Regions from separate parts of the Homo sapiens genome. Here region 1 is linked to region 2. The links come from fine-mapping of genetic effects on gene expression. Tissue or cell type: whole blood. Region 2 holds a variant in brackets; the other region holds the start of a gene. All regions are shown on one strand. Distances are from middle to middle.

Evidence for each region. PIP is the estimated chance that this variant, and not a neighbour inherited with it, causes the effect.
Region 1: it holds the start of MAFF, and the variant in region 2 is fine-mapped to the expression of MAFF in whole blood (TOPMed, PIP 0.97).

The regions. Positions count from the first base shown.
Region 1 is chr22:38,198,088-38,206,259 of GRCh38, forward strand. It overlaps MAFF (MAF bZIP transcription factor F), which reads left to right and starts at 3,907. Exons shown (of 3, transcript NM_012323.4): 1 at 3,907-4,125. RefSeq lists enhancers at 995-1,044, 6,429-6,573, silencers at 3,734-4,063, 4,124-4,563, 5,414-5,493, 6,714-6,763 and a cis regulatory region at 6,501.
Region 2 is chr22:38,223,411-38,231,582 of GRCh38, forward strand. It overlaps TMEM184B (transmembrane protein 184B), which reads right to left. Exons shown (of 9, transcript NM_012264.5): 4 at 7,834-7,924; 5 at 7,259-7,334; 6 at 3,369-3,460; 7 at 2,014-2,183; 8 at 1,375-1,569. SNORA92 (small nucleolar RNA, H/ACA box 92) reads right to left here and starts at 1,310; the gene lies at 1,069-1,310. It overlaps TMEM184B-AS1 (TMEM184B antisense RNA 1), which reads left to right and starts at 7,910. Exons shown (of 2, transcript NR_186700.1): 1 at 7,910-8,005. RefSeq lists enhancers at 1,249-1,749, 5,574-6,304. The variant G/A (reference allele first, on the strand shown) is at 4,298.

The DNA.
Region 1 (8,172 bases), 25 kb before region 2:
CCAGCCTGGGTGACAGAGCAAGACTCCATCTCAAAAAAATAAATAAATAAATAAATAAATAAATACTCCAGTGTATATTTCCTAAAATCAAGGACACATTCTCTTCTATGACCACAGGACAAGCATTGAAGCCAGGAAGTTGGGCATCCATGCAGTAATTACCTCATCTACAAACTCCGTGGCAATTTGCCCCTTACTGGTGATATTAACTTTGATCACTTAGCGAAGGTTGTGTCTGCCAAATTTCTCCACTGCAGAGTTATTATTTTTCCTTCCATAATTAATTATCATCTTGTGGGTAAATAACTTGAAACTATGTAAATACTTTCTCATCAAGCTTTCATATCCATTGGTGATTCTTGCTGCAACCCATGATTACTATGGTGGCTGCCTGATGGTCATTTCTTTTTTTTTTTTCTTCCTCTTCTTTTTTTAATAGAGACAAGATTTCGCCATATTGCCCAGGCTGGTCTCAAACTCCGGGCTCAAGTGATCCTCCTGCCTCGGTCTCCCAAAGTGCTGAGAATACAGGTGCGAGCCACCATGCCCAGCCTGAGCTCCCACTTTTAAATAGGACATTGCACCATGGCCCTTGATCTTGACCAGAAAGGGAGCTATGTCTATGGGAAGCAGTCCCTGCAGGGTGGATAATGAGGCACTGACCCCCTTGTTCTGGCAGGCTGGGGATGGGAGTAAAGGATCTAGGCAGCATGGTGTCCAGGAGTGTTGTTCAGGTCCACTGAGAATTCACTCACTAGCTGAGCACCTACAGTGTTCCAGGTGTGGCCCCAGCTCTTGAGAAGCTCATAAAAAAGGGAGTAGATTGGGAGGCTGAGGCAGAAGGAAGGCTTGAGGCCAAGGGTTCAAGATCAACCTATGCAATATGGTGAGACCTCCATCTCTGCAAAAAATAGAAAAATTATCCAGGCACAGTGATGCACACTTGTAGTCCCAACTACTCGGGAGGCTGAGGTGAGAGGATCGCTTGAGCCCAGAAGTTCAAGGCTGCAGTGAGCTATGATCATGCCACTGCACTCCAGCCTGGGCAACAGGGCAAGACCCTGTTTTGTTTTGTTTTGGTTTTGGTTTTAAAGGGGGTGGGGGGTAGAGAAAATAGACAACTCACCATTGTGCAGTTTCTAAAACTGAGAACTTTCCTACCCCAAAGGTTAACCTAGGTGGCTCTTTCTGCTATGCACATGGAGAGGACTGAGCAATTGGTTTTTAGAGATCCTTTTGAGTGCTAGACAAAGCTGCCTCAACATTTGGTCACTTGGGAAACTAGTGGGCCAATTTGCATACCAAACCCACAGCCTGTGGGAGGGAACGGAAAGAAGCCATAGTGTCTGGTGGACCAAGGCACAGAGGCAGGAAAGCAAGACAAGGGCGCTGAAATCGAATTTGCTACATCAAGGAAAGTGGGGGGCTGGGCGCGGTGGCTCACGCGTGTAATCCCAGCACTTTGGGAGGCCGAGGCGGGTGGATCACGAGGTCAGGAGATCGACACCACGGTGAAACCCCGTCTCTACTAAAAATACAAAAAAAAAAAATTAGGAGGGCGCGGTGGCGGGCGCCTGTAGTCCCAGCTACTCGGGAGGCTGAGGCTGGAGAATGGCGTGAACCCGGGAGGTGGAGCTTGCAGTGAGCTGAGATCGCGCCACTGCACTCCAGCCTGGGGCAACACAGCGAGACTCCGGCTCAAAAAAAAAAAAAAAAAAAGGAAAGTGGGGATCCTTACTGGTGATCAGGGTGCCACATAGAGGCCTACCCATTTGGAGAGGCCCTATGCCCTCCACAGTGGAGTAAGTGCCATGATGTCGGCTTCACAGGAGGGACTGTGGGAGCGATGGAATTTCAGGCAGTGGGAACATCATGAGCAAAGGAAAGCAGGGGATGAACAGCAACATCCACCCCGCACGTGGCCTCCAAAGCCATCTCTTTTGGGTGGGGCTTCCCACCACGGCGCACACCCCTCATGTTTATGTGGCCCTCCTCCCCTGGTTGCGATGTACCCCCAAACATCTGGGCCAGGAATCATTCAGACCTGGATACCAATTCCAGTGCTTGTACTTCCTAGCTGAGTGAATTTAGAAAGTCACCTTCACCTCTCTGAGCCTCCAGTCATGTATTCCTTCAACATGTATTTACTGTGGGCCTACTATGTGCCAAGCACTACTCCAGGCACTGGGCAGGCAGTGGTGAACAAGATAAGCCTGGCCAGGCGCAGTGGCTCATGTCTGCAATCCCAACACTTTGGGAGGCCGAGGTGGGTGGCCTGAGGTCAGGGGTTCAAAACCAGCCTGGCTGGGCATGGTGACTCACCTGTAGTCCAGCTACTGGGGGGCTGAATTCCTTGAACCTGGGAGGCGGAGGTTGCAGTGAGCCAAGATTATGCCACTGCACTCCAGCCTGGGCAACAGAGTGAGACTCTGTCTCAAAAAAAAAAAAAGAAAAAGAAAAAGAAGCAAGGCCTGCCTTCATAAAACATACATTCTGGTTGGGGAAGACAGACAATAACCAGCACTCACATACATAAATGATGAAACACCCTACAGAAGTATTAAGATAATATAAGAACAAATTTCAAGGCTGGGTGCGGTGGCTTGCGCCTGTAATCCCATTACTTTGGGAGGCCAGCGTGGGTGGATTGCCTGAGTCCAGGAGTTTGAGACCAGTTTGGGCAACATGGCAAAACCCTGTCTCTACAAAAAAAAAAAAAAAAAAAAAAAAAAAAAAATACAAAAAATGAACCTAGCATGGTGGTGTGTGCTTATGGTCCCAGCTACTTGGGAGGCTAAGGTGGGAGAATGGCTGGAGTCCAGGAGAAGGAGGTTGCAGTGAGCCGAGATTGTGCCACTGCACTCCAGCCTGGGTGACAGAGTGAGACCCTGTCTCGAAAAAAAAAAAAAAATTCAGAGGTGAAGACTGCTTTAACCAGGGTGGTCAGGAAATGTCTCTCTGAGGCAGTGACATCCGGGCTGACGTGAAAGATGAGAAAGAGTCAGGCAAGTGAACAGAAGACCAGACAGCCAGTGCCAAGGGCCTGTCGCAGGAATGAGCTTGGTATGTTTGGGGGACAGAAAGAAGGGCACTGTGGCCGAAGAGCAGTGGATGAGGAGAGAGTGGCCAAAGAAGGTGTGTAAACAACCTGAGCTTTGTTTTGAGAAGAACATTGGCTGGTATAGAAAGAAAGACTTTGGAGGCAAAGTAGGGAGCCTCGGAGGCTGCTGCCATTGTCCGGGTAAGCTGATGGTGCCGAGACCAGGTGCCATGACTGGAGGTGGTGAGAAATGGTCCTATGCAGGAGACCTGGAGACACCGCTAGCTTGAGTCCTGAGGTGGGGAGGAAGGGAGAGGGAGGGATGGAGCCAGGCTCCAAGGTTTTGGCTTGAGCAGCTGAGATGGGGTGGCAAGGGAGCAGAGGTAGGGCTGACGATCAGGAGCGGGTTTTTGGGCCGAGTCCTCTGCAGTGCCCATCTGACACCCACTGGATGCGCAGAGTGGGCAGCTGGCTATGAGTCTGGAACTCAGAGAAGCTGTTCGCTCCGGAAATACAAACCTGGGGCTCATAGCCATATAAATGTCATTTAAAGCCACGGGACTGGATGAGATCATTAAGGCAGAAGGTCTAGGTCGAAAGAAGAGGGCCAGGACCACTACCTGTAAAATGAGCCAATGACACCTACACCCACGGGGCTCTCGCGAGGTGTCACGTGAACGCACCCAGCGAGCCCTGGAACCAGGCAGAGAATCGCGGCAGCCCCGGGGGCGGGGCTTCCAGGGGGCGGGGTCATACGGGGGCGGGGCCGAGGGACCAAGCGGCCGCTCCTGGCCGGAGGGCGGCCGGGTCGGTGACGTCACCGCATGACTGGGTTTTTATGAATGAAAGGAATCCTGTGAGTGAGTAATTCCGGGAAGCTCGCCTTACAACTCCGCGCGGCCTCGGCCCCCTGCGCCGCCCGCCCCACAACAAAACTCAGCGCAGCGCTCCCGGGCGCCCGGTTCAGAGCGACCTGCGGCTCAGAGCGGAGGGGAGACTGACCGGAGCGCGGATCGGGACAGCGGCCGGGACAGCGGCGAGACGCGCGTGTGTGAGCGCGCCGGACCAAGCGGGCCCAGAAGCGGGTGAGGAACGCGGGACCAGGAGGACGGTGCGCGGGACCCCAAGGCGGCAGGGTTTCTGCGTCCCGGGATGCGCCTGGGGTGGGCGCCCGGGCCCGATCCGTCGGGGCTCCCGGAGCTCCATCGCCCGGACGGCTCGGGGCGGGGAGAAGGGAGCGGCCGTCCCGGGGACGCCGAGGACGGGGCCGAGGCCAGCTCGGGGGAGTGGGGGTGGAGACGGGGCCCCTTCCCGGGGCGCGGGCGGGTAGGCGGCGGCGCCGGGAGGAAGGGGCAGCGCAGGCCGGCGATCTCCGCGTCCGCCCGGCGGGGGCGGGGGCGCTGTGCTCCTACGTGACTCGGTGGGAACAGGCCCTGGCCCGGCGCCCGCGGGCGGTGCGTGCGCGGTTTGTTTACGTCCGAGGGCGGGCGTGTGTTCCCTGGCGGGCGGCCTGGGTATCCTGCCCGGTGCGTGCGTGCGCTGTGTACCTCGGGGGCGTGTGTGCGTGTGTTGTGCTTGTGTGTGCGTGTCCGCGCGCGCGCTCCCTGGGGCCTGTACACCAGCAGTGTGTACCTCGGAGAGGGCGTGCCCTGGGCCGGCCACCGGAGTAAACGCGGAACAAGGACCCGAGCGAAGGAAGCGGACCCGTGCGTCTTCGCACGGGGTCTGGGAATTCTGGCCCGGGCCGCCCCAGTCCTACTACCCGGGGCTGTCCGTCCCCGGCTCTCCCCGGAGTTTCCCAGGGCCTCCGCCACGTGACCCCAGTGTTTGTCTCCCGCCCAGAGCCCGCGCCCGCAGCCACAGGGTGGGGCAAGGTATCAAAGACCCCACCCAGCTGAGCTAGGAGTGAGGGATGTGAGCCACCCCCGCTTGGCACCCCGGTGGATCTGGTAACAAAGTGAGTTGGAGCCCAGGTTCTTGTCCCCAGATTTTGGGGCTTCCTGGGGAGGGAAGAACCAAGGGACTCTCGTTCGTCCCCAGGGTTGCCCATCCCCTCAGTCCCATGAGAACAGGAAGGGCCAGAAAACCTTGACTGCAAGGGTGCGGCGCAGGGAGAGGACCACAGGCTTTTAGCTAGTCCGGGTTCTGGAGGCTGTACCTGCTAGGTCGTGGAGGATGGGGCGGAGCCGGTTTCCGCTCTCCTGGTAGTTTCAGTTCACAAGTGGGACTGGTGAGACTAGACTGACCTACAGCTGGACGCCGGAAGCTAGCTGAGGCTCTGAGCCAGCCGACAGACCCCGAGTGCCCTCACCCTGGGCCAGGCAGGGTCAGTAGGCATTGGGGATAGAACTCTGACTGCACGGAGGGTTAATGAGTGAGGGGTGGGGCCTGACCTAGCCGCCACCCACCCACTCACCCAATAGCCCTGCAGAAAGCACCTGTTTGTCGTAGCCGCCTGCAGGATGGGCTGGGGGCTAGAGATTCCTTGGTCTTAATCCACCTTCCCCCTCCACCCACCCACCCACGGTCTATGGAATTGTGGGAGGGGAGCAATTGAACTTGCTAGGGTGAGGAACCAATGATCTTTTGACTTTGGATCTTTGAACCCTGGGTGAGCTCTGCTACAGCAGCCCGGACCCTCAGTATTCCCATCTACCACTGGGAACTAGGTAACAGCCAGGATGGCAGGATGGTGGGTAGAAGGGGGAAGCTCTGGAAGTCTGTGCAGACAGCGTATTTTCCAGGTGAATTGTGGAAGAGAAAGCAGGGCTGACAGCCCCATGCCAGGAGCTGGGGGTACCCAAGAGTAGGTGGGGTTTGAGTCAGGAGGGTTGGGGCCAGGAGCACAGGAACCAGACAGGCCCACCCTCAAAGCTGGGCAGGAAACATTACAAAGTAGGGCCTGGGGTCAGGGGATGAGGGGAAGTGGCTGGTTGACTCAGTCCCAGATGGAAAGTTAGCACTGAGAAGTTTAACTTCCCATTGAATCACCCCTGGGCCCTGCATTGCCATTGGGCCCTTGTCCTGGACCAGATGCCAGGGATGAGATGAACAGACCAGATCCAGAGACTGCCCTCTGGGAGCTTATAGCTCAGCAGCGGACACAAACTTGAAAAAAGATCCACAGAAGTAAATGCAAAACACAGCTTAGATGGGTGATGTGAGGGAGAAGTCACTGTGGTTTGAAAGTACATAACAGCGCTCTGACTTAGCCAGGGCAATCAAGGAAGGCTTCCCTGGGGAGGTGACTAGTGTGCTGAGTCTGATAGAGTGGTGGTTGTCTGTGAAGCCCTTGAAGGCAGGAGCTGTGATTCACTTCAGGGTCTCCAGGGCCCAGCACAGAGCCTGGAACATAGTAGGTGCTTCTTGGATGTTTGCTGATTGAATGAATGAGCCCTGGATCCCTGCCCTCTAAGAGCTCCACAACACATGGAGAAAAAGGCCTGGGAACCCCAGAGAAACAGGAAGCCAGGGCAGGGGCTGGGGGAATCTTGAAGCAGTCTCCCAAAAGCGAGCAAATCCTTCAGGACTCAGGCAACTTCCTCCCTCACACACACAGGCATGCACTGCCCGCTTGTCCCTTTGGGAAACATTCAGGGATAGTAGAATTTGCTGTCTGTTCATTCATCTGTTAGCATACGATCCTGGGAGAGAGTGGACAGGAATACGGTTGAGGCCTGAGGACCCTACTGTGTTGGCTTGCGGGGAGGCTGGCATTGCAGGGTTTTGAAATGGGCCAAGCACGGACAGGCTCGTGGGTTTGTGTCAGTAGTGATTCCTCTGACAGCTCTTGGGGGAGGATCAATGATGGGGATTGGAGACGGAGGGCAAGGCAAGAGGCTGGTGAGCAGGCGGTTGTGGTCATGGTCCAGATGAAGGAGGAAGTGGTCTGTGGCTGTGCAGGTGGAGAAGAGGGCTAGTCTGATAGTCTGATAGTTTGTGTCTCATGCCCCCACCTCCAGGAAGCCTTCACCGCTTTCCTTTCCCTACCTCCATTCTGCTGGTGGTCTTGGAGCTCTGGGCCAGAATCTGAAACTCTAAACTCAGAGACAGTCATTGTTGGAAGGTACCTTAGGCTCGGAGGACGTTTGGCATAGTGGGAAAACTGAGGCCCAGAGAGAGGGAGTGCCGTACCTGAGGCCACACAGCGAGTGTGAGAGGGTACCTGAACTGGGGCTGGAACCCCAGGCCGTTGCTTCTCTGTGGTGCTTGGTTCTTCCAGCCTTGCTCCCCTTCCAGCAGGGAGGAGGCTCCAGCAGTGCTGACTGCCAAGAGCTAGGAAAACACATTTTTTCCCTGTCCTCACAGAGCGAGCAGAATGGCTCAGCAGCCAGAAAGGAGCCCATGCCAGCGGGTGGGCCTTCTACAGGATGTCTCTGGAGTGGACTGGTGGGGCCAGGGAGGGGGACGTTGGAGGGTTGTGGCTGCTGACTGGACAAGGCAGTTGTCAGTCCCTCAAGAGTCACCTCTCTCCTTATGCCTCCAGAAGACGTCATGAACCTGCAGACCCTGGAGGTCAGCTCTGCTGGCTTCCAAGGGAAGAAGCCAGGGAGAGGTGGTGGTGGCCGACATAGAAGACAGAGGACCCCTGGGTTCCAGTCCGCCACGGCTACCAAACAGTGGCTTGGTTGCCTCAGGTGCTGAACAGGGGATCGGATCAGCTACTATTTCTCAGGCCCAGGGTCAGCCAGCCTGGCAAAGGCAGAGGACCCAGGCCCCTTGGCAGCCCCTGGCCTGGGGTTGGCAGCGGAAAGCCTGAGGTTACCAGAAAGTTCCCCCTTCTTGTGACTTTCCCCCTGTGATTGCCTGACTGCTGAGCTAGGACATTCCTGGGCAAACGTGGGTGCCTCAGCTGACATCCAGGATGCGGTTGAGGGGGCTGAGGCTCGGACAGGAGGGCATGGAGGAGTGGGGGAAGAGCAGGTTCAAAACCTTCCTAGCACCTGAGGGTATTTACAATCACAGCCAGCTTCCGCTATTATCAAGGATAGGGAATGGCTGATGGTTCCATCTCTCAGGCCTGGTCTGGAGGCAGTGTTGAGGATTCTAGGCTGTGTCCAAGCTCAGGAGAAAACAGTTCTGTGCTGAGAAAGACTCAGGGGCTGTGGCCTGCCTCACTGGGAATTGGTGCT
Region 2 (8,172 bases):
TGTGTTTGCTAGATCCTTCCAACTGGGCCACCAGGTGGCAACCCCTGGCCTTTGTGCACCTGCTCTTTGGGCACAGAGTAGGTCTTCCCCCACCAGGGAAGGCACAGAGGAAGGGGGGCGGGAAGTGGGCCGCGGAGCCCCGCTGCAGGCAGACATTTCTACAGTCCACACCACCCACCACGGAGCCTGTGTGGGGCCTGCAGGTAGGCCCTGGGGAAGTGGGTTTCTTGCCTCCAGCCACTCGGGCAGACAGCTGGCAGCAGCCAGGCTCCTGGGTGGATGTGTCAGAGAAGGAGGCTCCCCTCTCCCCAGTCCCTCCTGCCCCTTTACTGGCTCAATCAGTCTCAGGCATTCCCAGCCTCCTCTTCCCCATCCTCCAAGGACAACCCCCTTCTGCCCAGTGGCCAGAGGCAGCCCTTCCAGCCCAGTGGAGCGTCCCGGGCAGCAGCACTTTCACATCACCCTGGGAGTGCTTAAAGCACAGAACTCTCACAGCACACCCAGCCTGCCAGCCCGGACCCATTACAGCGGGATCTCCGAGGGTGGGGCTGGGTATCAGCACTTCCAAAAGCTCTCCAGGGCATTTTCCAGTACAACTGGGGCTACTTACCACTGTTCTAGCAAGGAGGAAGATTCGCAGGTGTAAAAGAAAGCTGTTAAAACCTATTACCATCCGAGTCTGTTTCTCAGAAGTATTCTTTTTTTTCTTTCTTTCTTTTTTTTGAGACGGAGTCTTGCTCTGTCACCCAGGCTGGAGTGCAATGGCACAATCTCGCTCACTGCAAGCTCCGCCTCCTGGATTCACACCATTCTCCTGCCTCAGCCTCCCGAGTAGCTCGGACTACAAGCACCCGCCACCACGCCCGGCTAATTTTTTGTATTTTTAGTAGAGACAGGGTTTCACCGTGTTAGCCAGGATGGTCTCGATCTCCTGACCTTGTGATCCACCCGCCTCGGCCTCCCAAAGTGCTGGGATTATAGGCGTGAGCCACCGTGCCCGGCCAGAAGTATCCTTTTTTTAAAAAATAGCATATGAGATGAGGGAATTACAGGACAAAATGGTAACCACAGTGTTGGGAGTTAGAAGCCCGAGGGAATTTGTCTATTCATTACAGTCTCTGTCTGTATCAGCCCTGGACCGCCACACTTGGACCTGCTGCAAGGGACAGGTGGCCTGAGCTTCCAGGACCGAATCGGTCGTGCTGGTGGCACCTGCTCTTCCCCGACCTCTGTGGCCCCATTCCTGCATATAGAGTGGGGATCCCATGTCCTGACCCAGCCGCACCTGTAGGATGCTGGGAGGTGGGAGGGTCCTGGGATGTTTGGGGCTCCCTGCTTCTCCCAGCGGGGGTCGCCTAGGACCCTGGCTCATACCTTGTGCGTCCAGCCTCTTGTCAGCATAGACCTTGTAGGTGAAGGCGTGCCGCAGGGCCAGGGCTGCAAAGAACATCTCCACACAGATGATGAAGTCCTGGTAGCCGGCAGCCACGGTGCCCTCGCCCACCGACACGCGGGCCGAGTGGATTTTGGGGATGGCCCCACACTTCTCCAGGATGGCCAGGAGCATGCCTGGATGGGGAGGCACGGGTGTCTGGACCCAGAATGATTCCTTTCCTGCTCCCCCTTCTTCCACAATGCCCCATTCAGCTGCCCACATGCCCCAGTGAGGATGTGAGCAGGGCCACAGCTGCTCCTGCAGGGCAGGGGTAGCGACACAAGGCCACAGCCTCCGGAAACCCCACTCTCCCAGCTCTTTGCCACCGAAACTGAGATGCCAGCAATTACGCAGGGTCTCCTGGGCCCTCTCATCCATGTAGCGGCCCCACCAAAGCTCTCCCTAGCCCCTGGGAAAGGCCCTCGAGGGCTCAGATTTCACCCCCAGCAAGTGCCCAGTGGGCTGAGGCCCCTCTGAACAGGCCCTACAGGCACCAGGGACCATAAGCAGAAGGGGCAGCAGGAAGCGCAGAGGACAGGGTGGCATGGGCAGCCTCCAGGTGCTGGGAGGGGGCTCACCTTGCCAGAAGGAAAGAAAGATGACGGACTTGACCATGAAGAACTTGAGGACGGGGCTGTAGGGGCTGAGCAGCTCCCGGGTGGCGAAGTAGAAGAGGAAGAGGGCGTAGAGGGCCAGGCTGACGGAGATGTTGTAGATGATGGTCACGTAGAGGTAGCCACTGGTGACGCTGCGGGACGGGGAGCATTTTCTGGCTGGGACAGACCCTTGGAGGGAAGGGGCTCTCCTCGACTGCACCACACACAGTCCCCATGGCTCTCAGCCCCACACCTCCAGCAGAGCTCAACGAGCCACTGAAGGGGTCAGAATGGGTGATCAAAGCGACAGACAGGGGTGGGGGTACATGGGGTGCGCCTGCAGGCCAGACCAGCTCTACTGCCTCTGCGTGGCTCGTGGACTTGTCTAAGCCCTGGTGCCCACACTCCTAACGTTGGACACCAGTGTGGAAGCCAGGGCCGGGCCCGAGGCCATAGCCTGACACTCAGATAACAGGCGTCAAAATAGGTGACGCTGCTCAGCTCTGCTGCCTTTTCACTCGGTCGGCTGCATCCCCCTGACCTCCTTTTGCCCACCTGCCCTGGCAGGGCTGTTACACAGTTCACAGACAGTGTGTGCCGAGAGCTTGAAAGCACAGGGCTAGACACATGGTCACTTTTTTTTTTTTTTTTTTTAGATATGGAGTTTTGTTCTTGTCACCCAGGCTAGAGTGCAATGGCGTGATCTTGGCTCACCGCAACCTCTGCCTCCTGGGTTCAAGCGATTCTCCTGCCTCAGCCTCCCGAGTAGCTGGGATTATAGGCACCCGTCACCACGCCCGGTTAATTTTTTGTATTTTTAGTAGTGATGGGGTTTCACCATGTTGGCCAGGCTGGTCTTGAACTCCTGACCTCAGGTGATCTACCCGCGTTGGCCTCCCAAAGTGCTAGGATTACAGGCGTGAACCACTGTGCCCAGCCACGGGGTCACTTTCACTAAGCCCAGAATGAAATGGGTGTGGACAATTTACACAGCACGGGCTTTGTATCTGTGGACTTGAGCCGACCTCTTGGGGCTCTGACCCTCTCGCTCCCTGCCTCAGCAGTGGTCACTGTCCCTTTGTGGCCCATCCCTTCATGGTACCACTCTGCAGCCTGGACATGAACGTGACTGCTGCCAATGGCTCACTCCGGGGCTGGCAGCGGGGCCAACTGCAAGGGTGTCCACTGCTGGGCTCAGACTTCAGGGGGGTTGTGAGCACCAGACACCCAGGAAGGTCATGGCTGTGCGGCCACTCTGGCTGCCCCCTTCCCTGAGCCAAGGCACCAGCCTGCGCCAACACTCCTCCCACACACCCCGGGGAGCACCCGCTGCTTACTCAAAGTCCCCATCCCGGTACTTGCCGAAGGCCTGGAGGACCACAGTGCTGACCGCCATGAGTGGCTTCACCACACAGAACTGCAGGGTGGCCTGTTGGGGGGAAAAGGAGGTTGAGTGTGGAGGAGGAGCACAGAAGGCATGAAGCAAGCCCTGCCTCTGGCAGACGGAACTGTACCGGATGGAGGGACAGAGAGGATGAAGGAGACGGAGAGGACGGAGGGATGGAGGGACGGAGGGGATGGAGGGACGAAGGGATGGAGGGGATGGAAGGATAGAGGAGATGGAGGAGATGGGGGGTGGCTACGTGTCCTGCTCCCAGGGGACTGCTGTCTGCGCGGGGCGGGGGGCAGAACATATAGGAGATGCAGCCAGCGCAATGCCGTATGTGATATGAGCATGTGGAGGAAGGGAGGGAGGAAGGGAGGAATGGTGTGGCAGGGCACGATGGAGGCGGGAGACAGGAGATGCACACAAGGAAGCTTCTCGAGCCAGGACCATCAGGTGGGTGCCGGAGATGAGAGGCTCGACAGGCAGAGGGGGCAGCTTGCACCAAGGCCCCGAGGCAGAGGGTGGACAGGTGCAAGGGGCTGCGCACTAGAGAGGTGGCTGAGGAGATGGGCAGGGCCAGGTCCTGGAGACCTTGGTGCCCGGGGCAAGGCTAGGGCCCTGCTCAAGGAACCAGCCACCGGGAAGCCGGCGCAGGTGAGGGCCTCCTCCCATCCTCCATGTCCACCCCCGATCTGGTTCCTAGCCCTACTCTCTGGGCCTGGGTCCAGGGTTTCTGGTCAGCAGAGGTCACTCTGGGGATGGAGGTGACCTGCAGGAGCCCAGAGCACGTGGACTCCAGAGTCTCAAAATCTGAGTTTGAACTCTGGGGACAGCTTGGGCAGACACTTGGCCTCTGAGCACAGACTCCCTGATGAAAAG[G/A]ATGTAGTCACTCCCCACACCACAGGGCCACTGCTGCGGGGATGGCACAGCCAGGAAGCGCAGCATCTTCTCGGGAGTCTCCCGCCTCTGTACATGCACTAACGGCGCCTGCTAGCTGGCTGAGCCACGGAAAGAGTTCCTCAGCCAGGTTTTCCCGATTCCCTACGGGCGGACCCATGGTGCCCATAACATCACTAGTATCACCATTATCTAGAAAGCAAATAAATCTAAGCCCTAAGACCCCTTCTGAGGAGCTGGGGGAGGTTAAATCCAATCCAAAAGGCTCAACTAGTGTAGCTGCAAAGAGGACGAGGAGCCTGGAGTGGGAACCGTGATCCGTGAAACCTGCAGCTTCTGCCCCAACTGGGGATCTGAGTGGGTCTTGCAGGGGAGCCCCAGGCAGCCCACACCATGGGGCTGCCATACGGAGAGGCCCGCGTGATGGGGCAGACGTGCAGTCCCACTCTCAGAAAGCCCCACAGAACGTCCCTGGCCCTGTCATCCCGCCTAGAGAAGTGGGACTGGCACCTTCTGGGGAAAAGGGAAGAACGGCAGTTTGCATGAGTTCCAGTTATGAGCCTAGCAACAGGCTGGTGTTTCCCTGGGTCAGCTCACCTGGTACTCATGACAGCCCCCTGACGTGGGTGCTGTCATTATCCCCATGGTACAGGTGAGGAAACTGAGGCAGAGAGAAGCTGAAGCAGCAGCAGCAGCAGCAGCAGAGCCCAGGCCAGCAGGCCCCAGAATCATCACCTGACCATACCCTGGACCAGTCAGCAGTTCCCAGGCTGGGCTGGACATCAGAACCCCCAGGGAGCTTTAGACATGTGCCAGGTTCCAGGGCTCCATTCCAGAACTTCTCCTATGGGCTAGGGTAGTGGGTGGTTGATCTGGGAATCTCTACTTTAAGTAGGGAATCTCTCCAGAAGGTCTGGATATTGAGCACTGGCCCTGAGGAGTCAAAGGCCTGTCTCTGTGCCTCTAGGACAAAGCTGTGGGGTGTGCTCTCTCGCCCTGGTAAAGAAAGGAAGAGGCCTCTTTTGTTCTCTTTCTTCTTATATCTCTCCCTGCCACCGCCAGGAACAAGAACAGAACATCTGAGCCCACAGGGCTGGGGAATAATTTCTAACAAGGCCACACTAGCTAACAATCATGAAATCAAAATTTTGTAGACAATATAATCATCAAACAAGGCAGTGAGTCACAGCTGGCCGGAACCTGGGTGGCTGCACCAACTGGTAAACAATGGCTCTCAATGCCCCACCCTGAACCCAGGATAGTTTTAACTCTTTCCCTGCAGGTCCAGTGGTGAGATTCTGAATTTAGGAACATGCTAGGGAAGGAAGGTCTGGAAGCAGAACTGGAGACTTGGCATGTTCAGGTGGAGGCTTTGTGGGTGTGCCCGCCCTGTGGCCTGGGCCCTGCACAGAAGGGAGCAGCAGGCCCCGCCCTCCAGGGCCATCGTGACTTGGCTGTGGGTTTCATGTACTTTCGTGACTACTCTTGGCGAAGCTGGAGGGGCTGACATGACAGAGCCCCTACGGAGCCCCAGAGGAGACTAACGCAAGGTCATGAAGAGTGGGCGTGATCCCCTCAGACTCTGCCTCCCTGAACAGGAGGCCGTGGGCTCCACCACGCCGGGCTGAAAGCTCTACATCCATGACCTCATCTGATCCTCACAACCATCTCTAGAGAGGAGTATCATTACACTCATTTTACAGTGGAGGAAACTAAAGCTCAGAGAGGGTAAGCCAATTATCCAAGGTCACAGAGTCAGAGGAAAAGCTGGAAATCAGGCTCAGATGGTCAGACACCCAGGCCCACACACTGAGCGACCCCACCACACTGCCCCCACCCAGGCTACTCTAGACCACAGGGAGGTCAGCCCAGGAAGCTAGAGCAGCTGGATTGCCAAGGCTACTCTAGACCACAGGGAGGTCAGCCCAGGAAGCTAGAGTGGCTGGATTGCCAAGGCTACTCTAGACCACAGGGAGGCCAGCCCAGGAAGCTAGAGCGGCTGGATTGCCAAGGCTACTCTAGACCACAGGGAGGTCAGCCCAGGAAGCTAGAGCGGCTGGATTGCCAAGGCTACTCTAGACCACAGGGAGGTCAGCCCAGGAAGCTAGAGCGGCTGGATTGCCAAGGCTACTCTAGACCACAGGGAGGTCAGCCCAGGAAGCTAGAGCGGCTGGATTGCCAAGGCTACTCTAGACCACAGGGAGGCCAGCCCAGGAAGCTAGAGCGGCTGGATTGCCAAGGCTACTCTAGACCACAGGGAGGTCAGCCCAGGAAGCTAGAGCGGCTGGATTGCCAAGGCTACTCTAGACCACAGGGAGGCCAGCCCAGGAAGCTAGAGCGGCTGGATTGCCAAGGCTACTCTAGACCACAGGGAGGTCAGCCCAGGAAGCTAGAGCGGCTGGATTGCCAAGGCTACTCTAGACCACAGGGAGGCCAGCCCAGGAAGCTAGAGCGGCTGGACTGCCAAGGCTACTCTAGACCACAGGGAAGTCAGCCCAGGAAGCTAGAGCGGCTGGATTGCCAACCAGGAAATGCAGGGAGAGACGAAGAGACGGCAGAGGCCTGTTCTGGCGTGTGTCTTTAATGCCAAAACCCTCCTGCCCCCTAGCTGCAGCTGATGAGAAGTTTTCAAATGGAGGTTCTAGAATCCCCACGCACTTCTTCTGATTTTCACACACACTGAGACTTGGTCACACGAGCAAGAGTCTGGGATCAGCTCTTGCCCACAGTGCAACAGACACTCCCAGGATGTCGGTCGCTGCCCCTCCAAGCACACCCTGCTAATGTGGTATCTGCCTAACAGCTTCGGGGGGTGGGTGCTGGGGGCCTGGGGTGCCTCATAGGAAAGGGGACCTCTAAGGTGGGGCCCAGGGCAGCCCACGGCAGGGCCTCCCAGACCCCGCCCTGCTCCTCCTGAGCTAGGCAGCTGCTGGGGGCACACACCTGTTTGCAGAACCTCAGAAATCCGATGGAATAAGTCTTTCCCCAGAGGCAGCAGGTGCCATACATACAGCTGGACCTGGAAGAGACAAGCATAGCAGGCAGTGGCAGTGAGTGAAGAGCCAGGACTTGGGAACAGTGGGGTGGGGAAGGCCGCCCTCCCACCCATCCAGACGAGCTGGGGCACACATTCTGGGCAGACTTTGAACCCGAGGCCAAGCACAGGGAGAGGCATGGCAGGGCATCCGCACATGCCATAGGCGGAGGGACACAGGGCTGCACTGGCCCTGGGGTGACAAACCAACTTGGAGAGCTCTGAATGTAAAAACTGCAGGAGGCAGAAACAGACAGGAAAGCACTAAGACTGAGACAGGAAGAGACAGAGAGAGAAAGACTGAGCCGCAGAGGCCCTCCTAAAACGCCCAGAAGAATGGCGTTGCTCAGGAAATGTGGTGAGGCACAGCAGGTCAAGGTCACGGGCAGACATGGTCTGTGTCCAGCTGGTGCCAGGACGGCTCGAGGTACACCAGGCCCAGGAAACGGGGTGGTTTAGGGCTCTGGGAAGACTCCATACTCACTCAATGGGTTTTCCTCTGATCTCCGACATGATGGAACTTTCTCCTCCTAGGTACTCATAGCACAGGCTCAGGAAATTATAGATGACCAAGGCTGCGAAGAGAGTGTCCAGGAGAAACCAGTCAAATCAGCAGAATGGGTCCGCAGATGCTGGGATTCTAAACAGCAATGGAGGTGAAAGAGCCACAGCTGTGTGTGGCAACAGGGAGGAGGCTGGGGGACATAAGGTTGTGCAAAAGGAGCCCGTCAAGAACACAGACATCTGACCTCCCACTCCTAAGTTCAAAACCCGGCACACCTAAATTATCTTATCCCGGGATGCACCCCTGCACTGGCGTAAT